Linked DNA regions of Homo sapiens. The protein of the gene in region 3 purifies or fractionates together with the protein of the main gene of each other region. This does not show direct contact. Each region holds a gene or a part of one and is shown on either strand. Other genes may lie near its edges.

The links.
Region 1: the proteins of RP2 (region 3) and XPO7 purify together in Homo sapiens (affinity purification with mass spectrometry; 3 studies listed by BioGRID and IntAct, with this or other methods). This does not show direct contact.
Region 2: the proteins of RP2 (region 3) and USP24 purify together in Homo sapiens (affinity purification with mass spectrometry; 3 studies listed by BioGRID and IntAct, with this or other methods). This does not show direct contact.
Region 4: the proteins of RP2 (region 3) and MTARC2 purify together in Homo sapiens (affinity purification with mass spectrometry; 4 studies listed by BioGRID and IntAct, with this or other methods). This does not show direct contact.

The regions. Positions count from the first base shown.
Region 1 is NC_000008.11:21,999,652-22,006,684, reverse strand, and holds the end of XPO7 (exportin-7), read right to left. Parts: coding exon 7,011-7,033; intron 4,574-7,010; coding exon 4,413-4,573; intron 3,467-4,412; coding exon 3,368-3,466; intron 2,783-3,367; coding exon 2,655-2,782; intron 1,691-2,654; coding exon 1,597-1,690; 3' UTR 100-1,596; downstream 1-99.
Region 2 is NC_000001.11:55,205,365-55,212,364, forward strand, and holds part of USP24 (ubiquitin carboxyl-terminal hydrolase 24), read right to left. Parts: intron 1-7,000. UniProt on the Homo sapiens protein: Ubiquitin-specific protease that regulates cell survival in various contexts through modulating the protein stability of some of its substrates including DDB2, MCL1 or TP53.
Region 3 is NC_000023.11:46,832,572-46,840,066, reverse strand, and holds the start of RP2 (protein XRP2), read right to left. Parts: upstream 3,025-7,495; 5' UTR 2,967-3,024; coding exon 2,865-2,966; intron 1-2,864. UniProt on the Homo sapiens protein: Acts as a GTPase-activating protein (GAP) involved in trafficking between the Golgi and the ciliary membrane.
Region 4 is NC_000001.11:220,744,105-220,751,324, reverse strand, and holds the start of MTARC2 (mitochondrial amidoxime reducing component 2 isoform a precursor), read right to left. Parts: upstream 3,004-7,220; 5' UTR 2,794-3,003; coding exon 2,522-2,793; exon of another isoform or gene 2,510-2,521; intron 1-2,509. UniProt on the Homo sapiens protein: Catalyzes the reduction of N-oxygenated molecules, acting as a counterpart of cytochrome P450 and flavin-containing monooxygenases in metabolic cycles.

The DNA.
Region 1 (7,033 bases), on a different chromosome or scaffold from region 3:
TGTCATTCACGGGCTTTTAAAGAATGTTTCACACAGCTTCATGTGTTTTGAGTGAGACATGTCCTTGGACGCACACTGGACATGATTGCTGAAGCCAGGTCAGTAGAAACCATTGAAGTTTATTGGCGGTCACAATGCTTACACTGTATGCAGCAAACACCCTTACAAGTCTATCCGCAACCTGATCACGCAAGAAAGGATTCATCACACAGTCGCCAGAGGAGAAGGAAAAAAAATTAACAGGCTTGTTTCTGGGGGTAGAGGAAAGAAATAAAAATAAAACCTAATTGATGAGTGTCCCGTGGGCAAGAGCTGAACTAGAGATGTGTACAACTAGCAGCAACAATTGTGGAAAAAGTACAAGGCAAATAGCTGTCTCCATTAATTTTCCTCTGTAGGTTATTATTTTTTTTAATATTCAAAACATTTATTATGGTTTTCATTTTATAAAAATGTATATTTTTTAAGGGATGGGAGAATGTTAAATACTTCATGCTAGGTAGACCTTGTTATTAAGAACCCTTCCACTGTAGTAACTTCCTCCAGTTCATACATTCATGAGTGCAGGGTACATATATAAATATCCACACGCATACATCCACACACACTGCCTCGAGGGCTGGGGAAGACTAAAATTTATTGGCCACACACAGCAGGGCCTCTGGTGGACTCACCCACATTGCTCCCAGGAGAGCAGTGGGCTCACTTCCTTCTCTCTGGTCTCTGCCTTCACACAGACCAAGAACCCTACAACACGTCGTTAAATCCAACTTTTAAAAGCAAGAGGCATCTGTCTGAGGATGAGGGTAAGCAAAGTAGGAAAGAGGGTGGAGATAAGAACACCAAACACTTTTAGCTGGAGTTATTTATCACTGCAAGGGGCTAGGGACCCAGGGCAGAATCTACACGGTCCAAGGGGAGGGACGGTGTTCTGGCATGGCTTAGAGTTCCTAATAACAAGGGTTAATACAGTAACAGGAATTGATCATTTCTGGGTGAGGACAGGGCAATACGAAAAAATATACATTTGGAATTTTAGCTTTTTTTTTGCCTCTCTACTGTGTCACTAAATATATCTCTGCACTCTCACACATCCTTGTCCAGTAAAGCTTCAGGCCACCAGAATACACATTTTCTTCACTCGCATACACAACCCCTCACATCAGCATTGGTGCACTAGACTCTGTAAAAATTTTTCAGTCACACTTTTTGTTTTTAAACTTGAGTCAATATAAACCTTGTTCAAAATGTTATGAAAAAATGTACATGTTTATACAAGGCAGGTTGTGGCAGGACACTAGGGGTTCTCCCCACTTGGGTGGCCCCAGGAGGAGAGGCTGGAGTCTCAGTTTGTATCTCTTATCTCCTCCCACCACCCTTCCCACCCAGTCCCCCAGGAACCAGCAGCGCCCTGCCCCCTAGTGAGTGTACTCACACCCCTATTCCCTGGGGAAGCAGCTAGTTGACCTTTGCCATTTTCCCCACACCCCTGGAGAAAAGAGCCAGGATCAGCCAGGCCCTCTCCCTTGCAATTGTTCGCCCCTCTGGGCCAAACCAAAGGGACGCTGCTCTGTACAGGTAGAGTCCAAGGAGGTGTCAGCTCATCATGTCATTGCTATTCACGCCATAAGTGGAATTCTTCATTGAGTCGTTGACTTCTCGACGGAATGCTGACAGGTTCTGGGTGAACCTGCAGAGAGGATGCATGTGGGTTGGGGGAGGAGAGTGGGGGGGAAAGGTATTTGCCTTTTTTTTTTTTTTTTTTAAAGCATGGGAAGTAGAATGTATGAATTGATGGGTTCTGTTTCAAAGATCAGTTAATTTCAGTCTTAAGACTCTAAGAGAAAAGTTGGCTTAGAGATCTGGTCAAATCTGGGGCCCTGAGGGCTACCTTGGGCTCATGGCAGCACAAAAGAAATCTCACTGACAGAAGTAGGAAGTTGCCCTCACACGTGAGGGCAGTAAGCCAATGAAGCCATCTCATTTCTTAATGCAGCAAGACCAGGTGGTGCAGTGCTATGCTGTCCAATAGGGCGGCTGCTAACCACATATGGCTACCGTGCCCCTGAATTATGGCCAGTGTGACTGAGAACATGAATCCAAATTAAATACAATTTAACATTCAGCTCCCCAACTGCATCTTAATTTTAAATTAAAATGCCTTGTTTTAAATTAATTAAAATTAAATAAAATTTAAAAGTTAATTGCAAAGCCCAGATACTCAATGCAGTTACTGGAAAGTCCCTAGGTGTGTTTGAAACAATCTGGGTATTACAGGAATCTACTTTGTCAACTGTAAATTTATGAAATCTAAATACAGATCAAGTATTTCTGATGAAAACGTATGAACTGAGATATGCTGTTAAATGTAAAGTACACAGGATTTTGGAAATGTAGTACAAAAAGAATGTGAAAACCCACAATTTTAAAATACTGATTACACACTGATACAATATTTTAGATACAATGGGTTAAATAAAATATATTATTAAAATGAATTTTGCCTGTTTAACATGGCTCACTTTTCTATTGCATTGCATTGCTTTAGATGGCCTCCAAACACAGATGTCAAAGACTTTAAAGCAACTGCCTGTTTCGTTGATTTGAAAAATAGCAATTGTCTGAGATTTCTAGGCAGGACGCTTTATACTCACCTGTCTCTGTTTTTCGTAAGAAGATTTCGCTCGATGCCTTCCATCAGGTTCTCAAAACACAGGTGCATGGCCTGCTGCTTCTCCGGTGGCTGGCTGTTCACAATACTGTTTCTTAGGTCAGAAAAATACTGTGGGGCAAGGAGTGGAACAGAAGGTTAGAGAAGCAGGGGAAGGCAGATTAGCCCTCCGTCATCTGCAGGGTTGAAGAATGTTCTTCTCTAAGGAGGAATGGAATGTCTACTAAAATTGGACCCTTAAAAAAGAAATTCAGGCAAGCACTTGTGGGATAATATGGCTTCATCCTACTAAGAATATCAAGAATTTTTAAATTGTAAAGCACTTTAAAAGGGTCATCTTATCCAGACCTTTCTTTTACCAGAATCTCAAGACTTGTTTATAGCAGAGCTAGAACTAGAACTTAGGTCTTAGGTCCTCTGATACCCAGGTACATTATTTCCTTGAAAGGTTTCTCTTACTGCCTAGGGGAAACACTCCTTTATCCTGTGTCTGTGAGCTACCACACATGCTGACTTCTAACAGTTAAATGATTATGTGATACTGAAAGCACAAATGGGACTTGCTCAGTAAATGACCCATTTTCCCTGTTTCACCACCGTGGGGTGTTTCTATACACATTTCTCCCAGGGCTTGGTGATACCAAGTGCGTGGTTGCCACTGCTTCTGGGTTGGCACCAGGGAGCTGGCTCTCTCACCTTTTCATTAAGCAATATCAAGCCAAGTAGTGGTCGGGACATAGACCACTGGTTCCTACAGTCTTCAAAGATGATGATGTTCAGCACCGTGGACAGCATCTGAAAATGGAATGGAGAATTTCAGGCAGTGACCTAATGTATTGCTACCCAAGATAAAACGACAGATTCCAAATACAGGAGTATATTAGGCTGAAGGCCTTTTCTGTATAGGGTAAATCAGACAAATAGTTTGTGAAGCTTCATCTGAGTCTTCTATTTCAAGGTTACCTTTTCTTCTAAGATATTCATTTCCTTTCTTGTTCTTAAAATTGGTTTGAACTTCACTTACCAATGGATCTTTCCAGGTCACCCTGAGTTGTGGGGAATGGGATGGGGTCACGTAAACAAAATTACAGTAAGCAAAACCACCTTGCATGATCCCTTCCAGGTACTCGGAGTTGACAGCTTTATGACATCTTGTGAATGTAATGGAGTCCTGAATTATTTCACTGCTTCTTTAGAGAACGGTGTGGACAAAGGTAAGACTGGCTAAAATCTCAATAATTACTGATCCCATTTCCTTATCTATTTTCATCTAGCATGTATTTCTGTAAGTTACTTCAAGGCACATACAAATAAAATAAGGGCAAGCATATGGTTTGATCTCTCTGTGGCCAGTTATTTCCTTCTGTCTTGCATTCTTCTTCCTGTTTTGTAAACAGGAACACAAGCCTTTAGAAAGCTGGATGCTGCTAACTCCTGCTCTATTTATAGCAGTGGGTGAGCAAAGTAATTTTCACAGAAAGAGGATAGTGATCATGAGACAGGTCCAGGGCATAGGGATCACTGTGACACTCAGAAGAATAATCCAGAACCTGAGCGTTTTCTACATCCAGTGATTACTTGGCAAACTCAAAATCCACTGCAACTTTAAGACACGGACTTCATCTCAGCAGCAGGAACCTGATGAGATGTCATGTTAATCGTGTGTGGGCTCCCCTGTCTTGCAGAGGTCCTTCCTCTGTCGGACACCCCATCACTGCCTCCTAAGCCTCCACTTTCTTACCTGCTGGATCATCTCTGGATGCTGCTGCATGATGTGCAGAAAGCGGTCGCTCTCCTGGTTCAGGGGTGTGGTCCTCTTCTTGGTGCTACGTGACAGCTGCTTGAAGAGGTATGTCACAATGTGGTCCAGGCAGGAGCAGCAGCCTGTGCATACCATGGTGTCTGCAAGAAAGAAAGGCAGGGGTAGGACAGAGCTGCTGATGGTGGCCTGGACAAATATGGACTATCTTTGGGTGAGATCCATTAGGGTACCGTGGCCAATTCAACCAAGGCGGTTGCTCAAGATGACTCCTGTTAACCTCTTAACCTCATTGTACAGTAGGGCTCAATTTCTAAGTTTGAAAGTGAGTATGTGGTAATAAAGAATACTGAAATTATCGGCTCAATGTGTTGTGGATGTACGTACATCTTCTGCCTCACACAAAATAACAAATAGTTTGATTCAGCAAGTGCTTCTTTTGTGCCAGATGTTGTGCTAAGTACTTTATAGGTGTTATCTCTAATTTATCCTCTCAAGAACTCAGGAATTAGGTTTTCTGTTTTACAAATGAGGAAACCAGAATTAGGAGAGGTTATGTATCGGCCTAAGGATCAACTGCTAGTAATTGCAGGAGCTGTGATTAGAATCCAAGAAGCCTGGGGTATGAGCCTATGCTCTGAGTTACCAGTGGGATGTAATTAAACCCAGAATGACGTAGCCCCTGAATGTTTATGGTTTGTTAGAACACGGTATGCTGTATTATCTGTTTATCTCCAAAGCATCTCTGGGGGGAGCTGCAGACTCATCTATGCGTCTTTACAAAGGGAACAGTACAGCACAACCTGTGGACAGAACTCTGATGAGGTAAGGCCAAAGGACAAAGGGGCTGAACCCTTAAAAGAGTAAACAAGTCTCTGATTCCTACGGGACTGATAGTTTATGCAAACGTCCCTCTACTTGCTTTTTCTTTCTTTTTTTTTTTTTTGATACGGAGTCTCGTTCTGTCGCCCGGGCTGGAGTGCAGAAGTGGCACGATCTCGGCTCACCACAGCTTCTACTTCCCGGGTTCAAGTGATTCTTCTGCCTCAGCCTCCAGAGTAGCTGGGACTACAGGCACACACCACCACGCCGAGCTAATTTTTGTACAGAGACAGGGTTTTGCCATATTGGCCAGGCTGGTCTCGAGCTCCTGACCTTGTGATCTGCCCGCCTCAGCCTCCCAAAGTGCTGGGATGAGCCACCACGCCCGGCCAGGTCCCTGTATTTTCAATAAGACATAAAAAAGTCTTCCAAAGCAAGGGCTGATACCTTGATTGGACTGTACTAGATACGGCTATGCACCCTGATAGACTGATAGAAGTAAATGTGTATCAAAGTCGCACAGAGGCATGGATAATTCACCACAGTTGACAATCCAAAAGTGTATTTGCAACATATCATCACTATTTGGCAGTTGACTTAATCCTCCTACTTATGTTTTGCTCAGCCTAATATAAAAATGTGTTTTATTCTCTGAACACATATACCTACTAAGATTGTTGGGCCAGGCACGGTGGCTCATGCCTGTAATCCCAGTATTTTGGGAGGCCAAGCCAGGCGGATCATGAGGTCAGGAGATTGAGACTATCCTGGCTAACACAGTGAAACTCCGTCTCTACTAAAAATACAAAAAAATTAGCCAGGCATGGTGGCGGGCGCCTATAGTCCCAGCTACTTGGGAGGCTGAGGCAGAAGAATGGCATGAACCCGGGAGGCAGAGGTTGCAGTGAGCTGAGATCGCGCCACTGCACTCCAGCCTGGGCGACAGAGCGACTCCGTCTCAAAAAAAAAAAAAAAAAAATTGTTGGAAGGTAGCCTAGAAACAAAATGGTTGACAGAAACCATATGGACTAGGATGAAAAAACTTATGGAGCTAGCTGCATGAAACCTTTCCCCAGCTTCCACGGCCCTCAGGACAGAATTCAAACAGCCTAATACGGCTTACAGGCGGGCCCCCTTCATGATCTCCAGATTTGCTCCTGCTTATCTCTAAAGCTTCATTTCATTCCTAACTCCTCTGGACTAGTGTGCCAGCCATCTGGATTTCCTGGTTCTTTCTTGCCTACAGGTGCAAGTGCTTGCTGTCTCTGCTGCTAGGAACCCTCCCTGGCTAACCAGGGTAACATCTGTCCAGCTTTTAGGTTTATGCTTTGATGCCAAGTCTTCCAGCCAGTCTTCCTTGATCCTGACTTCCTCACAACCAAGAGTCTAGGTATTCTTGAGGGCTTGTGTAGCACTTTGTACTCACCCCTATTGTAATGTTTAAGTGGTAAGTATGGTAAACAGGCAGTTGTTTGTTCATGTGTCTGTTCTACCCACCAGATAAGCCCCTTAAGGACAGGGACTATATGCTGTTAATTACCGTATCCTCAGTGCTTCCACAGGGCCTTGTACTTAGGAAGGGAATCAGTGAGTGTGTGCTGGATAAGCATGTGCTGTGCATTATATACTCTATTGTTATGGCCAAACCCCCAAGGCAGTGGTGATCTTTTTGGACACTGGGGCAAGATTCTCTCTTTCTGTTTAGTTAAGTGGTAAAAAACAAACCCACCAACTCACCCACCCACCTCAGGTGCTTACCAAGTGCAGTAAGTCCTTCAGAA
Region 2 (7,000 bases), on a different chromosome or scaffold from region 3:
ACAGAAGGGGCAGGAAAGGCAACTAAATAGAAACTCCATTAAAGCTTCAACTGTGACTCAAATTCGAAAAGTCCTGCTGAATTGCATCTTCTGAGCCAGTTTTCTTAAAGCTAGAAATAACTATATAACATAATAGTCAAATGTGAATTCTAGATTTAAAAAAATAGCTCCCAATGATGTGCTAGGAAGCAGTATACTTTTTTCTGTATTTCAATTAGATAAAAAGCAAATTAAATCTTTTTTATATTTCATTTTCCTCATTAGCAAAGTTTTTGAATAATTTTAGAGTCTGCAAAATTTTCCTAAGAATTATGCAAAACTTTAATCTTTTTAACTACTCTCATTTAAACACAGTTTGGTTTGCTTTTAGTTTTAATAAAGTTTATATACTTTTTAAAAACTCATGAAGGAAAAATTCTAAAACACGGAAAAATAGGGAGAGTATAGCCCCATCACCCCAAAATAACAATATTAATATTTTAGCACAAGCTTATTTTCAAAATTAAGTATGCATATTTACATGTATACGTGAGAGGCCCCATAGCTCTTAATTTCTTAAAGGAGTCAATGAATGAAAAAATTAAGCATTTTAGATCTAGTCTAAGATGATGCCCATTTTATAGAGGAGAAAATGGAGTTTCAGAAAGGAAAACTGACTTGCCAAACAACAGCAAGAAACAGAACCCTGAACAGAAAGGTACAGTCTCCCAAATCCTGGGCTGAATACTCTTTCAAATACCATGAGACGTTTTATTTCATTTCATTTAAGATTTTCTTTGCATCCAACCACTGAGTCATCTCTCTATCCAATTAAATATTATTGTGAGCCAGGAGTACTAAGGACACAGAGATAAAAATAGTCCTGCTCAATGCCTAATGGGAATTATCAATACACACATGCAAACACAGAAAATTTTTTAACTGAAATGTTTTACTTGGTGTACATGCAAAATGCAGTGGGAGAGTGTAGTGGTGTAAGACAAGTGTTCCGTACAGAGAAGTGGCAATTGAGCTAACCTTGAAGAACGACTTAGTGTTAGACAGGCAGAAGAGATATCAGGGAGTAGGAATAAGAATGGGAAAATAGCAGCTAAACTGCAAAAGAGCTTAGAACAGGAAGGCAGGAGATAAGACCAGATAGGTAAGTCTGGAGACCTTGAAAGAAAAGGAGTTTAGGTTTTACCTATACAAGATGAGGAACCACAAAACCATTTTACCAAGATTATTCCACAATTAAAACTTATATTTTAGAGAAATCATTTCTTGTGCCAGTGAATGGCAGAGAAAAACAGTAAAAAAAAAAAAAAAAGGGTCGGGGGGGCATGAGCCAAAACCAGAGTAGTAACAGTGAGGATAGAGGGAAGGGGCATGAAAAATATTTAGGATAAGAATAGGCTATTCCATAAAAAAGAGAGCAAGGAGTCTAGAATAACACAGACAATTAATAATAGTGTTGCTATTCACAGAGTACCTTCATATTTTCTAGGATCTGAAATACATCTTAAATTGCTACCAAGGCCGGGCATGGTGACTGGCTCATACCTGTAATCTCAGCACTTGAGGAGGCTGAGGCAGGCAGATCGCCTGAGCTGAGGAGTTCGAGACCAGCCTGCGCAACATGGCGAAACCCTATATCTACAAAAAAGAATACAAAAATTGGCACACACCTGTGGTCCCAGCTACTTGAGAGGCTGCGGTGGGGAGAATCACTTGAGCCTAGGAGGCAGAGGCTACAATCAGCCAAAATCGCCTCGCTGCATTGCAGTCTGGGTGACAGAGTGAGACCCTGTCTCAAAAACCAAAACAAAATTATAAAATTGTTACCAAAATGCTTCACACTATAGATTACCAACTATAGTTCTCAAAAAGCAATTAATGTTCAACCAAAATTGACAATATAGGAGAAATGGAAAGGGGAAAAAAAAAAAAAAAGGAAATGCTGAACTGTTTATGAAAAGCTGGGTTTTAACAGCACATGAAGCAGAAACTGAAAAGTCTTGGATTTGAATTTCTGACCAACAAGTCTTCCTTACAAAGATTTTAATTTCAGAAATAATTTTGGAAACCTACTGATACAGGAGTTAAGTACAGCTGGCTCTCTGTATCCATGGGTTCCATATCTGCAGATTCAACCAACTGCAAATCAAAATTATTTGAAGAAAAAATTAAAAATAAGAATACAACAATAAAAAATACAAACAAGAAACAATATGATGTAACAACTGCATACACAGCATTTCCATTGTATTAGGTATTATGAGTAATCTAGGGATGACTTAAAGTATACGGGAAGATGTGTGTAGGTTAGATGGAAACACTAGGGACTTGAGCATGGTGGGGTGGTATCCTGGAACCAGCCCCCTATGGCTATCAAGGGACAACTGTATCGTATTGCTTAGTAAGTAATGGTTTTATAAAATATTCTTGATATAAACTTAAGTGAAAGTATAATAAATAATGTCAAATGAATTTTGCAATACAAATAACTGGCTTGATGCTACAGGAAAGCAAATTGTGTGCTGGAACAACTACTTGTTAGTGTTTATCTTTAGAAGTGGGAAGCCCTGGTGAGTACCTAAAATATTATTTATTTTTTAAGAGAACAATCACATCTTCAACTCAGCCCTTTAAAAGATTCCAAAGACTGCTGTATCATGGCTGAAGCATTTTAATTTCTGGAAAGATTGTAAGAATAATATTTAAACTTACTTGTGTTAGCTCTTCAGAGAAAATGAAAACATCAAATCTACGGCTATATATTCCATTAACCAGCTTAAGGTAATCACCTCTAAAACAGTGGATTCTACTTCTCACACATAACACACACAGAGAAATAAAAAATGGAAGCTACCAATGGTGGGAGCCAGGTTTCTCACTAGCAGACAAACAAGTGACCCTGTAAACATACTATAAAAACAAAATGGTTATAAAATACTTTGCCAAAACTCACCACAGAGATTATCGACAGAAACAATAATGTTGGCCAGGTGCGGAGGCTCACACCTGTAATCCCAGCACTTTGGGAGGCTGAGGTTGGCGGATCACTTGAGGCCAGAAGTTCAAGACCAGCCTGGCCAACATGGTGAAACCCCGTCTCTACTGAAAATATGAAAATTAGCCGGATGTGGTTGGTGCATGCCTGTAATCCCAGCTACTTAGGAGGTTGAGGCAGGAGAATCACTTGAACCTGGGAGGCGGAGGTTGCAGTGAGCTGAGATTGCACCACTGCACACCAGCCTGGGTGACAAAACTACACTCTGTCTCAAAAAAATAAAACAAAACAAAAAACAGCGCTGGGCACGGTGGTTCACGGCTGTAATCCCAGCACTCTGGGAGGCAGAGGCAGGCGGATCACGAGGTCAGGAGTTCGAGACCAGCCTGGCCAACATGGTGAAACCCCATTTCTACTAAAAATACAAAAATTAGCAGAGCGTGGTGGCAGGCGCCTGTAATCCCAGCTACTTGGGAGGCTGAGGCAGAAGAATCGCTTGAAACTGGAAGGCGGACGTTGCAGTGAGCCAAGATCACACCACTGCACTCCAGCCTGGGTGAAAGAGCAAAACTCCATCTTAAAAAAACAAAACAAAACAAAAAAAACCCAATAATGTCACCTACTATCAATATGAGCTTAACGAAAATTTTTATGTCAGTTGTGACTGAAAAATGTGATAACACTAAACAATAAAAATTCCTATGATAAAGAAAATGAAAAATACAAGCTTAAAAAAGGAAGTAAAACTCCCTAGAAAAAAAAGGGAGGAAAAAAACATTTACTCTTTTGAAAATGAAGCACAACTCTCTTAGTCGTACCTCTGCAATCTAGTATCATGACTGAAATGTCCTCACATCTGAATTTTCCAGGTGTCTGAAGCCTACTTCTTTATCCATCCAACTTCTTCTTTTTTTTTCTTTTTAAAAGGAAAACCTTTCTAAAATACATTAAACATTCCTGACCCTTCTTAAGCAGACCACACTGGAACCTCTTCTTGACTGTGACATCATTGAAAACACAGTTATCCTCTCAGGGCCATGAAACACATAATAAAGCTGTTTCAAATCACCCTACACAAATCGGCTAGTGTGATTTGGTTGAGTCGGCTTTTAAAGCTTTCCTGTTCCCTCCTTGACCACTAAGCTGCTACTGTCACTTCTCACTATTGTCAAATGAGCTTGTCTCTAAGAGCTCATCACCTTGTGTTTAGATTGCCATAAAACCATTCTAATTTGATAGGAAACCTAATATTGAAACTTGTTTGAACTGTATTTTTTGTTAAGTTTAAACACAAATGAAAGAAATGCATGAGCTTTAGTGCACTTAGAGCGCTTAGTGAGTGGAGTGCATGAGCTTTAATGCATGTACGAAGGTGTTCTGAAATGGTTCCATCTTATGTGTTTACTTCTTATTTCTCTCTGTGGTTCCATATAAGGAAAATTTCCAGGAAAACTGAACTCCAGATTTCAGATTCTACTAAATCTTTTTTAACATTTTCTTATTAAAAGTAAAAAACGCCCTCCTTCACACTCAGATCAAGTAAATGGTATATGATATTGTAGGCAGTAAGTATAAAAATACTTAAGTATATGGACATATTTTTCTATTAATGTTGAAACCTTTTCCTCAAATTGCTAAAACATTACAACATTTGCTTTTCTAACATTGAAATTGTTTTCAAAATTTAAGCTAACAATATTATTATGCTGTATAAAGCTGTCACAACCTACTATGATTTCACTAAAACCACACTCACAGACACACGAAAGGTACTCTCTTCATGCCAAATTACATTCATTCTAAAAGTGAATGGGCAGGTAATTACAAGGTGAGACTCCAACCATTAGATTAACTCACAGACCTAATTCCCAAAGGAGATATATATACATATACTGGATCAGAAAGAAATTCTTATTTAAAAATTAGGCCATGCTGATTCATCTTTAATTCCCTATTTTTATTTCATCTACTTTCAACTGATTTGGGAAATTATTTCATTTTTTTACTCTAAAGCCTTTAAAGGGCCTTTTTTTATTTACCAAATCACAGTAATTCATAAACCACAGGTCATGTACCAAATCACTAATAGTTAACTAAAAGCTACTCATTTGATATTTACTCCACACTCATACTAGGGTTGTTGTATTTTAGGAAAAGAATAACATGAATTTTACCATAAACCTTAATTATACACATTGACAGTATTACAATTTTAATCCATTTATAATTACCACTTACTACCAAAGGGGAACAAGAGAAATAGGAATGAGGTAAGTTAAGGAACTACAAATTAATATGCTTCTTATTTTTATGTGACTTAGATATATTAACAGCAGGACCAACTTTGGGGCTCTAAACTTAAAAAAACAAAAAAGCAATGAAATCTTGAAAGTACTCCTGACAAAACAATACCTCCAGAAAGAACATCCACATTAAAACAGGAACAAAACAAGGAGTTCACAATGTTTATCAGATCACAGTATTAAATGTCACTTCTGGGAATATTAATTAACAGCACTAGACAGCTAAGAAAGGTATTTCCTCAGTTAATATGAAATCTCCTTCCAAAAACTTCCATTTTAGTATTTTCTAAAGACAAACTTAATGAATAAGGTATTCATTATAGTATTAATGTTTGATGGTATTCCTTATGGATAAGGTACATTTCATAATTGTTAAGTTCTGTGAGATGCACAGGATACCTGGTTCAGATTTCTACTGATCCCCTGGAGAGATTACAAAGGCCCAACTCTTCCTGTTGTGTAGAGAACAGAACCAATTGGTACGCACTTGGCAGGCCAGAGTTTACATTAGCCATGCAGTAAAGAGTGAAGAATTCTGACAGGGGGGTGGTTAAAAATCAGAATAAGTTATTTAGAGCAGCTGTGAGAGCTCACTCTCTTTAATAATAGAACAGACTCTTATGTGCCGTGGAATGATTTTGAAGTAATGCTATTCAAAATCAAAACTGGACAGCTTCTCAAAGTCCCTTCCAGACCCAGAGACCAAGAACATTTACATCCAACAATACTAGTGAGAACCAAACACATCTCTTCTGCAAAACACTATCTTTACTTAATTGGAGGATATTAACAAGGTGGCTTTCTATGCAGTTGTGTGTTTTGCTAGATATCTGGGTCTTTTTTATCTGCATTCTCCTTGCTTCTACTGAACCGGAAGTTAACAGCTTTCACTGTTCAAATATTAATTTTTAAACCAAACCCTAATTACAGCAGGGCCTCAAACTGATTTACCTAACTAGCTACATGACCTTGGACAGTCTTTTCTTGTAAAATGAGAGGCTTGGACTAAGACCCACTAGAATGTAAACACCACGTTCTGTTCAACACTCTACTCCCTGCCCCTGGGACAGGAAGGCATTAAGAGAAAACCATTGCTATCCCCAAACTACAAATATAAAAAAACTTAAGTCATTTCTTTCTTTTCTAATCAATTAGATTTTATTCTGTTTTTCCCATTTTTAAAGAAGACAATGACACTGAAATGTCCTGTGCAGCAAATAGAAATGTATATAATTTAAAATAAGGTACTCAGTTTTTAGAAATAAAAAGGATTAACTATATAATAGCTGACAATCTTCACCCAGTTTTTTTACTCTTCTTCCTTCCCTTTAACCCATTACTGTGTCCCATTCCTTTTTCCTTTGAAAGAGAGCCCGAAAGAGTGCAGGACTTCAAGCAAAAGGGCCTGAGTACTAGCCCCACCTCTTCTATTAACTGACTCTGTGGGGACAAGCCACTTCCCCTTTGGGGCCCGAAAGGGTGCATCTGTTAAACAAGGGAGCTGCACTAATTATTAATTTCTAAAGTATGCTTCTTTTTAAAAAATCTGATTCACCTTATATTCTACCCATTATTCGATTCTTAATGGTTGGTGCTCACCACATCATTGCACAGTAGCCTTAAAATATGTCTTTCCCTCATTATTTCTCCTTACTATCCATACTGTTACCAAACAAATTTAATCCTAAAACCATGAGTTGAGCAG
Region 3 (7,495 bases):
GGCAGAGGTTGCAGTGAGCCGAGATCGCGCCACTGCATTCCAGCCTGGGCGATGACAGAGCCAGACTCCATCTCAAAAAGAAAACATCAAAAAAAGATACTCTGATTACACAACCTAAGGAAAAATGTAAACACCCTTTTCTAAGCTGCAAGGAAATTTTTCAGGCAACCCATTTTGTTTTTACATGTAAAAGTCTTACAAGTTGAATGGTAATTGTCTGATATAACTTTAAAACTGTATATGCTATAATCCATAACCACATTCCAGAAGCCTAAACTTTTAATATAAATCATTTCTATTAATATGCATGCATCATATCTCATTTATGTTCTCTGGGCTGTATTTGCAATCTGTTCCTTTTAAGGTACAACTGAAATCTTCTAGGAGCAAGCAAGGCCATGCTCAGTAAACGTATCATTGGACTAATACAGAACATTTGCACACTAGCCCAAATTAACCTCACGGGAGGCAAGGAACTAGGAAAAAATATTTTATTTATTTATTTTTTTTTTTTGGAAACAGGGTCTCACTCTGTTGCCCAAGCTGGAGGGCAGTGGCCCGATCATGACTCATTGCAGCCTCTAAGTCCCAGGCTCAGGTGATCCTCCCACCTCAGCCTACTGAGTAGCTGGGACTACAGGTGTGCACCACCATGCCCCACTAATTTTTGTATTTTTAGTAGGAATGAGGTTTCGCCATATTGCCCAGGCTGGTCTGGAACTCCTGGGCTCAAGAGAGCCACCAGCCTTGGCCTCCCAAAGTCCTGGGATTACAGGCATGAGTCACCATGCCTGGCCCTAGAAAAAAATATTTTAAATTGTATAAAATTTAACAAGCTATCAAAATGAGGCAACTTAGAAAGAATTCCTAGTAATTCCAAAAGAAAAAAAAACTAAAAAGAAAAAGCTATGTTGGGAAATGTGGTATCTGCATTGTCTCAAAATGTAAGCTGGTAATTCTCTTCAACAGTCCAAAATATTTTAAAACTGGGGTTTTTTTCAGAATGCTCATTTGGTTAGAAATTCTCATTTTGATTGGCTGAGTTGATCAAGATTTTAACTTTTATTATACACACACTCAGAAGCATGAGCTTATTTTATATATCCAATAACATCTCTTACAACTCTACAACTACAGAACTTAGTAGTGTTCTCAAAAAAAAAGGTTCTCTGTAAGCTCAAAACAGTTTCTACAATTGAAAGTTTATTACACACTCATTTGTGGGGAAAAAGCTTAGATGTTGGTGTCCAATGTTATATTTCTCAATGCATTTACTTAGCCAATGGGCAAAAGAAGAAAAAAAATCACAGGACACACACACTTATCTAAAAGAAGGATTAACATGAGAAGTCCTAACTAACCTGAATATTATGTTAATAAACATTAACTGTAAAACAATTTATTGTGAAACGATGAGTCATAGGCAGCCAAGACTACTATAAATAAAAAAGGCATTTTATTTAGTTTAGATTTAGCCTGAGTTCAAAAGAAAAAACTAAAATAAAAATGAAATATGCAACTTTCTCTAAGGCAGACAATTCAAGCTAAAAGAACATTGTTAGAAAGCCAAAGGCTGAGGAAAACAATATCTTTTAAAAACCGCCCATCAGATAACTTTAAATGGCAGGTGCAATCTTCTTGTGAAATAGAAAGCATAGTACTTTCTTCCCCTACATTATAAAATGCTACTATCGAGTATGACTAACAGAGAATAAAGGTACCATGTGACCCAAGAAGGGTGTGTATGAGAAGTAGGGGCAGAAAGACGGGGCTGAGAAAAGCTGCAAAAAGCTTTCAATTTCCTAACTCTGACTCTTAGAGACCAGAGCTTACCTGAATACATTCTGCTGGGGATTGGAAATCATGCAGAAAGGTCTGTGATTCCAAAACGTTAATACATTTATTATAAAGTAATCTTGGGTAAAGATATGTTGCCTTAAGCAAAGAGTTAACTGTTCATAATACCCATTTGAAAAATCTCTCATTTTGTTTGGGAGAAATAATTGATAAGTCCATCAAAGTAGTTTAGTAAGCACAAATGGAGAACTATGTAGAAAGAGGAACTATTATGAAATGTATGACCGAGTGTGTTTTGTGTAAGACTAATGGAGGTTTTCAAAGGTTTTTCGTTTCTGGCTATATACAAAAATAAAAATAAGGGCGTTTTCATTCATTTAAACCAGCAGTAAAATACTGCCTGGTTTATGCCGCTTATTTTCACCTTACAGTCTTAATACACATTCCAAGACTGATGCGATATTCATTATTTCTTTCGGATAACTGGAAGAGGAGGGGGAGTAAAGCTGTACATTAAACAGTCCACTTGGTAATTGAGAAAATTCAGCAGTGAAATATATCATGAGGCACCAAAGAGATTTGCCGGGGAGGGCAGACAAAAGAGAAAACAGCCACAGAACATTAAGCCCCGGAAGAGATGAGAATCGGTCCCATATACGTAACTCGACGACTGGACAAAACCCCGCTTGACGCTGCCGGTGGGTGAAACGAGGTGATTTGAGATTCAGGGCGTTCTCGGCTCTTTCCCTCTCTCGAATCGATCATCTCCAACAGGAAGTCAGAGCAAGGCAGGGTTCGGAGTCAGAGAAAGCTCCCGGGGGAGTCTGTCTACCACGACAACAAACTCCTAAGGCTCCTTCCGGAGCTCCACAGCCCTCTGGGCGGCCTCTCTAGCGCTGTACTTCACGTCCCCGCTCCCCAAAAAAGTCGTGCACCCCGACTTCAGCTATCCGCGTTCAAGAGAGTGCGGCAGCAGTTGGGTCGGCCCCCTCAGCGGTCCCGGGCCGTAAGGGACCTGGCGGAGCGGCTCAGGGAGGCTGAGACGGCGGCTACACGACTTTCATTACCTTCTCGCGCTGATCCCAGCTGTACTGCTTTGGCCGCTCCTCCTCGTTCTCGGGCCGCGACTCCTTGTCAGCCTTCCGTCTCTTGGAGAAGAAGCAGCCCATGGTCCCAGCCCGCGGAGCTCGTTGGCCAGCTCACTAGCTCAGGCACTTCCTAGAGTGTGGCGTGAACCCTGGGAACCCCGGCCTCGCAGCTCTCCGGACAACGCCCCGCGGAACCGCCCAACGGTCCGCAGCCTTAGTTTGCCCGCCAGGCCCAGCACCCCTTCCCCTTTTTCGTCGCCCTGACGACCCAGCGCAGCCAATGAACGCTCAGCGCCTGTTGAGCCAATCAAAGCCTCTCGAGCAATCCTGCGCGGCCTATGAAGAGAGGCCGACATACCCACATACCAATCCACGCCTGGCTCCTGCGACAGCCCCTGGCGGCGGGGCGGGCCGGCTCTGGCGCAAGCACGGACAACCCCGCCCACAGCTGTGGCACGGACCGCCCTCGGCCCCGCCCCTCCTGGAACTTGGTGGGTTCTCTAGCTGGTGGGAGGCCAGGCTCGGTATCCGGGTTTTTTTTGCCCCTGATTCATAAATTTGCAAGTTCAAGGCGCGGGAGAGATCTCTAGTTGAACATTAGATTTATCTTATGATGAAAGTTGTGAGGGACAGAAATTCCCGCTGACACAAGAAGACCCTGAAATTTGTATTTCTAAATCCTCTTCTCCCCTCATCACCCTTCCTACCGCCCTCTCATCGCCTGGCCAGGGTCACCCCCTCAAGAATTGTACCCCATAACCTCCCAATCCTCTTCTGTGCTCTTTCTTTCTTTCTTTCTTTCTTTCTTTCTTTCTTTCTTTCTTTCTTTCTTTCTTTCTTTCTTTTTCTTTCACAGGGTCTCGCTATGTCACTCAGGCTGCAGTGGCACAATCATAACTCACTGCAACCTTGCAACTTTGCAACCTTGACTTCCTGGGCTCAAGCGATCCTCCTGCCTCAGCCTCCTTCCTGAGTAGCTGGAACTACAAGCAAGCACCACCATGCCCACCTATTTTTTTTTTTTTTTACTTTTGTAGAAATGGGGTCTTGCTATGTCGCCCAGGCTGGTCTTGAACTCCTGGGCCCAAGCGATCATCCTGCCTCAGCCTCTCAAGGTGCTGGGATTACAGGCAGGACCCACCGCACCCCAGGCTGCTTCTGTGTTTTCTTAAGACTTTCACATATGGCTCTAAAATTGCACAAGTACTTAGTAAAATAGTTAATTGTGTATTGTTTCCCTATTTGAACTGTGACTTTCTTGAGATCAAAAAGGTATATCTTTTTTTTTTTTTTTTTTTTTTGATGGAGTTTTTGCTCTTGTCGCCCAGGCTGGAGTGCAGCAGTGCCATCTCGGCTCACTGCAACCTCCGCCTCCCGGGTTCAAGTGATTATCCTGCCTCAGCCTCCAGAGTAGCTGGGACTGCAGGCGCCTGCCACTACGCCCGGCTAATTTTTGTATTTTTAGTAGAGACGGGGTTTCACCATGTTGGGCAGGCTGGTCTCGATCTCCTGACCTCAGGTGATCTGCCCGCCTCGGCCTCCCAAAGTGCTGGGATGACAGGCATGAGCCACCGCGCCTGGCCTAAAAGGTATGTCATAAAGGGCATGCAGGGCCGGGCGCGGTGGCTCACGGCTGTCATCCCAGCACTTTGGGAGGCCGAGGCGGTAGGATCATGAGGTCAGGAGATCGAGACCATCCTGCTCAACACAGTGAAACCCCGTCTGGTGAAACCCCGTCTCTACTAAAAATACAAAAATTAGCCGGGCGTAGTGGCGTGTGCCTGTAGTCCCAGCTACTCGGGAGGCTGAGGCAGGAGAATTGCTTGAACCCAGGAGGTGGAGGTTGCAGTGAGCCAAGATGGCGCCGCTGCACTCCAGCCTGGGCGACAGAGGGAGACTCTGTCTAAAAAAAAAAAAAAAAAAAAAAACCAGAGCCGGGGGGGGCGGGCACGGTGGCTCACGCCTGTAATCCCAGCACTTTGGGAAGCCAAGGCGGGCGGATCACAAGGTCAGGAGTTCGAGACCAGCCTGGCCAATATGGTGAAACCTCATCTCTACTAAAAATACAAAAATTAACCGGGCATGGTGGCGGGCGCCTGTAGTCCCACCTACTCGGGAGGCTGAGGCAGGAGAATAGCTTGAACCCAGAAGGCGGAGGTTGCAGTGAGCCGAGATGGCGCCACTCCACTCCAGCCTGGGCGACAGAGCAAGACTCCGTCTCAAAAAAAAAAAAAAAAAAAGGCAGTGGGGAGGAAAGCTGAGGGGAGGGATGTACCTTTGAATCTCCTACACCTGGCCCAAGTCCATACTAGGTGCTCAATACAACGTTTGTCAAATGAATGAATGCATGCATGGGTGCTAGTGAAGGAAGCATTTATAAACTTCCCCCATCCCTTCCCAAAGAAAGTGACCAAACTGTGGGGGTGGGAGGCATGTGGATTTATGGTAAAGGGGTTCTCCTCATGGAGTTTATAGCCTCGTTGAGGACATAAGCATTGCATATGAACGATCAGATCTGTTCTAAGCAAATGGCATAGGGTTCGTCAGAATATATTTAAAGATATATACACTAAATATAAACATTTGTTATACTTGGGTCGAATTTTACTGCAATACACATGCATTGCCTATGTAATAGAAAAGAAAGGTAAGTCAGTTTCTCTGAGAAACAGTATTTTGACATCTCAGTAGGATATCAAATGCTGATCACTTCAGGTTCAAATTTGGTTATCTTTTAAATTTCCCATACTTATTCACATCTAGTTTGTATCCTAAATGAGCCTCTGACTTTTTTTTTTTTTTTTTTTTTTGAGACAGAGTCTCGCTTTATCACCCAGGCTGGAGTGCAATGACATGATCTCAGCTCACTGCAACCTCCACCTCCCAGGTTCAAGCAATTCTCCTGCCTCAGCCTCCCGAGTAGCTGGGGCTACAGGCGCACAAAACCACACCTGGCTAATTTTTGTATTTTTAGTAGAGACGGGGTTTCACCATGTTGGCCAGGCTGGTCTCGATCTCCTGACCTCAGGTGATCCACCCACCTCGGCCTCCCAAAATGTTGGGATTACAGGCGTGAGCTACAGTGCCCGGCCGACTTAATTTGAACATAAAGAATGTTCCCCTTTTTACTTCCCGTCCTTTATTGCACAATCGGGAAGAAAAGTACATGTGCTTAAGTATTAGAAATTACTGCAAATTTAAGTTCCAGATCTTAGGCAATAGAGTCTTTACCCAGTGCACACTTTTTCTCCTTCAGAGTGAGATGAAAGTTTTATGTGAAGATGTTTTTGGATAAGACCCTCATTCGATATTTTATAATCTATTATTATATTTATAATCTATGGTCTATGATTATAAAACATCTGTGACCAGATATAAATATATAACTATGACCACTACTTAGTGTAGCAGAGGAGGCAGAGATCCAGAGAGGTGAAGGGATGAATCTGTGGTCACGATGAGAGTGGCTGAGCAGGGACTGGAAAAATCCACATCCTGTGTTTCCCAGTGCCTCCTCCTGCCTTAAGTTTGTTCCTCTCTAATTCATCTGAAATAAGTATCTGCCTCGGCCTTCTGATGCCTATGGGAGCTCTGTCCCACAGTGATGCTATTCCTCTTAATGAACAAACAATATAACAAAACTAATTCTAGAGAAACAACCTCTGAAACTCTCACTGTTTTGAAGTATTCATTAATGAGAAAAGCTCAAATCTACAATAAAACCTATATCCAAGAGTGATCTTTTCAGGGACCCTTAAAAGTGAAGATAAAGTCCCTTTTCTGTTCATTCCCATCCTACCATCACTCTTGACCAAAAACAAAATTACAAAAAGAAAATTAAATCAAATGTTAAGAACTGGGGACTAGAAAGCTAATGAACAGAGCTAATACTAGTGCTGTCTCATCCTTTTTCTTTCTCTCTTATTCTTTCTTTCTTTTCTGCCCCATCTCTTTTTCACCTGTCCCCATGAATTCTCATCACTACTTATTTTTGCAAACCAGCTCTCTACTTACTCATCAGCATTTACATGGTTGACAACAGCTATCCCACCCTGATTCCTCATGGCCTTTCTGTCCAAGGGCATGCTACAGTCTCAGACTCTCAAGGGAGATAATCATATACATTGCTGGCCAGTCAATAACAGATTGGCTCTAGGTTGGTATGCACCCCTGGTCCCATTGCTGCAGCTGCAGGGGCGAATTCCAAACATGGGTGTTACAGATATGGGTGGGAAGCAGGTCCTGAAAAGGGAACGCTAACTCTGAAGAGTTCAGGCAGAAGTTGGTTGCTTGTTCTGCTTGTGCTCCTCCTGCTATTTATATTCTAGTGATTTCTTTTCTATAGAAGGCTGCCCTTCCTGTTCAGCTTGATGTATCTATTCATCTATATTAAAATGTTGAGTTGTGGGTTTACACCTGGCCACAAGCTCCAGAGATGGCTCTGGGTCCCCTGAGTCTTGACCACAGAAGTGATATAGTTACTTCTCAGAAGACAGTCCTGGCCGGGCACGGTGGCTCACACCTGTAATCCCAGCACTTTGGGAGGCCGAGGCAGGTGGATCACTTGAGGTCAGGAGTTTGAGACCAGCTTGGTCAACATGGTGAAAATA
Region 4 (7,220 bases), on a different chromosome or scaffold from region 3:
CATTCTGCCAGGTGGACTTTAAACACTCAATGCTTAGGGTGCTCAAGCCAAGTGTTCACAAGTATACTAAGAGCTTTGAACAAAATACCTTTAGAAATTTGAGACCCAGAGCACTTCCAGAGGAAAATCCCAGCTCCTTGGAACAGTTAGTTCCAAAGACACAGGTTCAGAATGGAATTCATTAAATGAGGCCTTTCCCTGAACTCTAGGAACATTTGTAGTAGTGTTATTAAATTGTCAGGTGGAGAAGACAGCGGCTATCAAACAGAGTTCTCTCCAGCAAGCCTGCTTTCAAATTGTTAATTATGCTTTGATAAATAAAATGTAGTTAAAATGGGGCTTTAGAGACCATGAAGTTCAACCTCATTCTTTTGCAAATGAGACAACTTTGTAGAAGTTCGCCCAAAGTCTCCTGATCCTCAGTGCAATCCTTATAGTTTTATATCATGCACTGGTTTCATACAAACAGCATAAGTTCTGTACTCACACAGATCTGAGTTCACATCCCCACAGCACACACTGGTTTTCTGGCCTTGGATGGGATACTCCTTCATTCTGATACTGTTTCCTTATTTGCAAAATGGTGATAATACTATCTAGCCCACAAGATTGTTATGAGGTTTAAATATGCTAATCTATGCGACAGGATTTAGCTCAGTGTCTGCTGCATTTTAACACTGAATAACATTAATTTCATTGCCTTTCCCTCTACCCCAGGCTTCACATCACCCCACCCCATCCTAAGCGTTTATTGTTTAAAACAAGGGAAAGGTAATACAGTTGTATTTATTTTAGGATGCCAGTGGGAGCAAAAAGCACAGGCAAAGGACACGTATTTTCTTTCCATGGTTGCAGTAGTCATGGCAAAGCAGTGACAAAGAGAAGTGGGAAAGAAACCGTTCTTCAGGTGATCAGAGGAAACGCAGATTAGAACTGGAAACTGTCTGTGAAACCAACCCTTCAAGCGAGGAAGGAAGTAGTGCAACCTAGCCTGCAACACTAATTTTCTCTGGACATGCATCGTGAGAATTTGGTTCTCCCAGTTTTTTGGAAGGTGTCCAGTCCCACACAGCCTGAAGTCTTTCCAGTAATAGGAAGGCTTTTCTTATCCTTCATATTTGAATAAGCTCTAAACATCCTCTTCTTCTTCATGGTCTCGGATAAAATCCTTTAATTATAGCATCAAAATCACCAGGGGGAGATTTAAACATTCTACACGAGTTGGCCCCACTCTTGGTGATTCTGCTTCCGTAGTCCTGGGATGGGAATCTCAGGAAGTTATAGTTGAAAAAGCTCTCCAGGATAAGAAATCTGGGGTAAGGGTGGGAGAATGAAAATCCTCCCATGATTCATATGGTCTGTGTACACAACACTTCTCTAAGACTCTCTGAAGTTTTCCAACACCATGGAAGTCCACATTTCTTTAAGAGGGCAGCAGTCTTCAGAAAACAGTGCATCCGCGTGTCCTGGAGTGAACACAGGGATGCAGGTGGCTCTCTGCTAGAGGAATCCTTGAATGATCAACTTGCAAACCTCCCTCCCCTCGGACACAGGCCCACAGCTAAACCATCTCGGCCAGATAAGAAGACATCTTGGCTGGGCACAGTGGCTCACACCTGTAATCCCAGCACTTTAGGAGGCCGAGGCTGGTGGATTCCCTGAGGTCAGGAGTTTGAGACCAGCCTGGTCAACAGAGTGAAACCCCGTTTCTACTAAAAATACAAAAATTAGCCGGGCGTGGTGGCGCACACCTGTAATCTCAGCTACTTGGGAGGCTGAGGCAGGAGAATTGCTTGAACTTGGGAGATGGAGGTTGCAGTGAGCTGAGATAGTGCCACTGCACTCCAGCCTGAGCTACGAAGTGAGATTCTGTCTCAAAAAAAAAAAAAAAAAAAAAGAAGAAGGCATCTTAATCCTAAGTATGAAATGTCTATGTGTCAGGCCCAAAAGTCCCAAAGTTCCAGGCTGTGAACAACTCTGCCTATGGGAGAAGGGGGGACACTATTCCCTTAATGGCAAGTATCACCTCTGCCCCAGAGTCCCCATGCCACTTGCTCATCCTTCATCAAAGTGTATCAGGCCTCCAGGGCACCCCCAGGATTGGAGAAATGTGAGGAACAAGGCCCAGCAAGGCCTAAGCCAATGTCCTTGAACAACACTTGGTTTCTTTCTTGCTGCTTTCTAGTGCCAATAGCTTTATTTTTCTACTTTGGTATACTAGGATAGAATCACAAACTTTAGAGCTAAGGAGACTTGGAGATACAGGTCAGACCCCCTCCTGTTACAGAGGAGGAATCTCTCGTCTAGGGAAGGGCAAGGGATTGCCCCTACCTACTTTACCAAAAATAAACCTGGCATGAACTTGGCCTTCCCAGATAAACGACCAACGGCCCAACAGTCAGCCCAGAAACTCAGGTGGCAAACCTCTATAGTCCTTCCCAGATAGATCGGGCCCCACCTGCCCCCCCGCTCCTCATCCCAGGCAGGCTCCGCGCTGCCCCGCGCCCGCGCTGTGCTGTACCTGTCCCGCAGGTTGCCGCTGCGCAGCCCCATGGCCGTGCACTCAGCCTCGCTCACCGGCACCCCTTTGCAGGATTTCACCGGGTAGATCCAGAGCTTCGCCACGGTGCCCACCTGCTGCAGCCGCCGGCGCCGCCTGGGCCATGCGCGGCGCCAGGCGACAGTCCCCAGGGCCACGGCGGCCAGTCCTAGCGCGGCGACCCCGAGCCACCTGGGCCAGGGCCGGGCTGGGAGGCCGAGGCGGGCCAGCGCGGAGGAGCTGGAAGCGCCCATGGCAGAGCGAGGGCGGGCGCGGACCGGCGCACAGACCCGGCAGCGACCGGAGACCGGGAGGACGAGGAGGCCCTTAAGGATCCGGGCAGGCGAGAGGAGTCAAAGTTGACCCAACTACGGACCCTCTCACACTTTCACCGCCGAGACGGCAGAGCAGTTCCGCGGAGAGCGGGAATGCCTTAATGCGGTGACCAAGCCTGCGCGGTAATGGAGGAAGACAGGCAGACAGCGGCGGGGGTACCCTGGGCGCCGTGGGAGCGACGCCGCCCAAAGCAAGCGAGCTAATGGGGCGGCCTCTGGGGTGGTCAGTGTCTCCTCCCTCTTCCCCGCCCCTACAACACGACAGTTACCCATGCAACATGACCTTCAGCGCCAGCACTCTGCCACCCCCTTCTCTGCTAATACTGCACGCTTAGTCGCTCGACAAGATCACCGCAGAACGTGAAGGCGGGTTGCCCAACGGAGGATTTACAAACATTTGGGAACGACTTTTTCTGGCAGGTCGCTGTGAGAACTGCAGGACTTTCTGCACACAAAGACACAGTCTAAACCTCTGCACTCAAAGACGAGGAACTCTAGCGTGGCTTATAGGAGCATGACTCAAGGTCCCCCACCCTCCGCTGCCGCCTAACCTCGACCCCAGTAAAATGTCTTCCCGAGAAAGCTCAAGGCAGCCAGGAGAATTCCCCGTTTATTCTAGCCAACACCCGATGGTAAAGCCCCTGACCTCCCTTTTTTAGGATATTTTCTTAAAAGGGCTTACAACTGTGAATCCTTTCTCTGTTGCTTTGAGATGTATATGTATCGCCTACACCTCAGAAGTGTCTTTCTCAAGGACCTGAAAGCCATTGCTCTGAAATGCAGTCATGGGGAGGATAGGCCTCTGTCCCCCAGTCTCTGTGGGAGGATAGAATCCCAGCTTCATAACGGCCAGCTCCAGGCACAGCTGCCCGTCATTAATACTGACCGCCCCTTCATGATTTTTCACTTGATCCCCTGCTAGCTTCCCGGCCCTATTCTCTCCTTCACCCTTTAAAACGCCCATTCTGCTATGCACAAATGAGAATGATCAGCTTTTTCTCCTACTGTAAGTAGTTACTGAGTAAAATCTGTTTTCATGGTTTAACTAATGTCTGGCTTTGTTGATCTTTAACACCTCCATTCAAGCAAGCTATTGGGTTAACAGTGGATTTTCTCAGACAAATTAAGGTTTGAAGTCTTTCAAGTTTTTTGTTGTTGTTCTGTTTTTCAAAAGTTTGTCCCTTAAACTGTGGCACAGTTCTAGGAAAGTTTAAGGAGGCCAACCAGTGGGCCACCCCCCAAATCTGGGCTGGCCACCTCCAGAGAAAGGGGCCCGTTCTGGAGTGTGGGAAGAGACTCCGGGAAGGATGGAGAACCAGAGGAGCCAGGTTCCCTTTGGCTGTTCCTTGTGAAAAGTGAAAGACAAAACAGGGCCTGAATCTCTCCCCACCCAGGAAAAAACCTCAGGCCAGCAGAATTAGTCCCTCAATCCCCATACATTTACATCATGCTTGGCAGCTGCGACTTATGGATTTGTTTTTTAAGCATGGTGTGGTGAATGTGATGTGTGTACACTTGTAGCTGACCCCCTTTGCCTCTCCCAACTCCTGAGGAGGGTCAGAGTCCTCCCTGCCCACAAGCCTGCTGTCAGAGTGAGGGGCTTACAAAGCCATCGCCTCGCTATACGTGAGCTCCCAGACAGGGCAAATGTCTTATTGATTAATCATCTCTTTCTTTCACCACATAGATATTGATCATTCACCAGGCTTCGTCCTAGATTGGCACTGGGGATTTAAAGTTTAGAAGAAGCTGCCCTTCCATCCAGTTCACTGACTCCCCAGAAGACTGACACCTCCCCTGCAAGTCTAGAGGATAATGTCAGAGGAGAAGCAAGGTCAAGATGCAGAGGATGCAGAGGCAAAAGAGCAGCTGAATCTCAGGACAGTGCTGTTTTCAGAGGGCGGAGCTTTGGAGCTGAGACTTGAACATGAGGAGGGGCTTGGAGATGGGTAAAGGAGAGGATTCTGGGCAAAAGGAGCAGCACGTGCAATAGCCTGAAAAAATGGAAGGAACAAGAGAGTGTGGCATGTTTGGGCAACCACCAGCAATCCAGCTGTATTAGGATGTACCTGTGCATGCAGCAGGTGGCGGGAGTTGAGGCAGGACAGGTGGGCAGAGGTCAGATCAACAGGCATCTTATCTCTACTTAATGTGGAGACACCTCAGAATTCTGAACAACAGTCTGGCATGATTAGACTTGGGTGCTAGGAAGGCCATTCTGGCTGCTCTGAGAAAGAGTAACACCAAAGATGGTTAGATGAGTTGCAAATGCCCTAGTTCAGGCTGATGTAATTCCAAATCAAGGAAAAATAACAGTGGGGCTGGAGATAGACATGTGGTTAGGAGAGATGGTCAGGGGACAGAATTAACAAGAGATAGTGATGACAGAACACAGAGCCAGAGGGAGAGGAAGAGCCCACGGGGCCTCCTGGCTCTGTGGCATAAAAGTCTGGGGTGGGATGGGGGTACCATTCTCAGAGATTAAGAATTCAAGAGAAGCTGGGCACAGTGGCTCACACCTGTAATCCCAGCACTTTGGGAGGCCGAGGTGGGCGGATCAGGAGGTCAGGATATCGAGACCATCCTGGCTCACATAGTGAAACCCCGTCTCTACTAAAAATACAAAAAATTAGCCAGGCATGGTGGTGGGCATCTGTAGTCCCAGCTACTTGGGAGGCTGAGGCAGGAGAATGGTGTGAACCCAGGAGGCGGAGCTTTCAGTGAGCCGAGATCGCGCCACTGCACTCCAGCCTGGGCGACAGAGAGAGACTCCGTCTCAAAAAAAAAAAAAAGAGAATTCAAGAGAAGAAGATAGTCTGGGAAAAAAGATGATGAGCCTATTGTGAACAGCGAGTGAGAGGTATCTTTGAGACATCAAAGAAGAAATAGTTACCTAGATAGATGGGTAACTTGACCTTTCCATGCTTCCACCTCCTCATGTGCAAAATGATGGGGATAGACATCAAGTGAGGAACTTTGCCATGGTGAGTGCTGCCAAGTCTTTGCTGTCTTCACCAGCCATTATCTATCATAGCCTGCCCTGTTTAAGCTTCACCAATGCTGGGGTTGGGGGTGCCTTCAGGGGAGCAGGGAAATTCCTTATCAGTAATGTGTACATTTGCAGCCCAGCATCTTCATTTGTAGAATTAGTGAGGGGTGATGAGAGGCTGTATTAGTCCATTCTCACACTGCTATAATGAAATACCTGAAGCTGGGTCATTTATCAAGAAAAAATGTTTAATTGGCTCATAGTTCTGCAGTCTGTACAGGAAGAACGGCGGCTTCTGCTTCTGGGAGACCTCAGGGAGCTTTTACTCATGGTGGAAGACAAAGCAGCAGTGGATGTCTTACATGATAGGAGCAGGACCCAGAGAGAGGGGGGAGGTTCCACATGCTTTTAAACAGCCAGATCTCATGAGAACTCACTCTCAGGATGATAGCACCAAGGGGAATGGTATTAAACCATGAGAAACCAGCCCCATGATCCAATCACCTCCCAGCAGGCCTTAACTCCAACACTGAGGGTTGCAATTGAACATGAGATTTGGTTGGGGACACAGATCCAAACCATATCAAAGGTTGAGGATTCATGAGTCTAATTGGCTGTTTGCATATCTTTTTTCCCTTCTGATTTGAATCAACTTATCTATTTTTTTGTTAATTTATAAGATCCTTTTATAAATTAAGAAAATTACCCTTTTATCATGCCTTCCCAAGTCATAACTTTTTCCCCTAGTTTGTCATATTTTGGCAACTTCTGCTTAGGAAAAATCTTTCTAGTGAATAAGACATCATTGTCTGCCTAGAGGCACTGACATAGATAAAGAAAACTCTGTCAATTAAAATATCAACCAAGAAACCAGAGAAAAAAAGAAGCCTAAAACCCAAATATTACCTTGCTTAGCCAGGTCCTCTTCAGGAAGGTGAGTACCCAGCAGCCAATGGAAGTATTCATCAGGGCCATGTAGCAGTTTGTCTTTCCTGGGGAGATGAGCACATCAGATTATCAGGCAGTGAGGATAGTCAACCTTCAACCCATATAACAAATCTCATGACGCAGGCTAGGCTAAAATATTGTAACAACCTCAACATCTCAATGCTCTAACAAAATAAAAGTTTATTTCTCACTTACATCCCAGTTTGATGCAGGCCAAACATTAATCAAAGGTCCCCTTAGGCCAGGCCCAGTGGCACACACCTGTAATCCTAGTGCTTTGGGCGACTGAGGCAGGAGGATCACTTGAGCCCAAGAGTTCAAGACCAGCCTGGGCAACATAATGAGACCCTGTTTCTACAAAAAATTTAAAACAACAGAAAAAGAGAGAATGAGGCAGGCATGGTGGTGC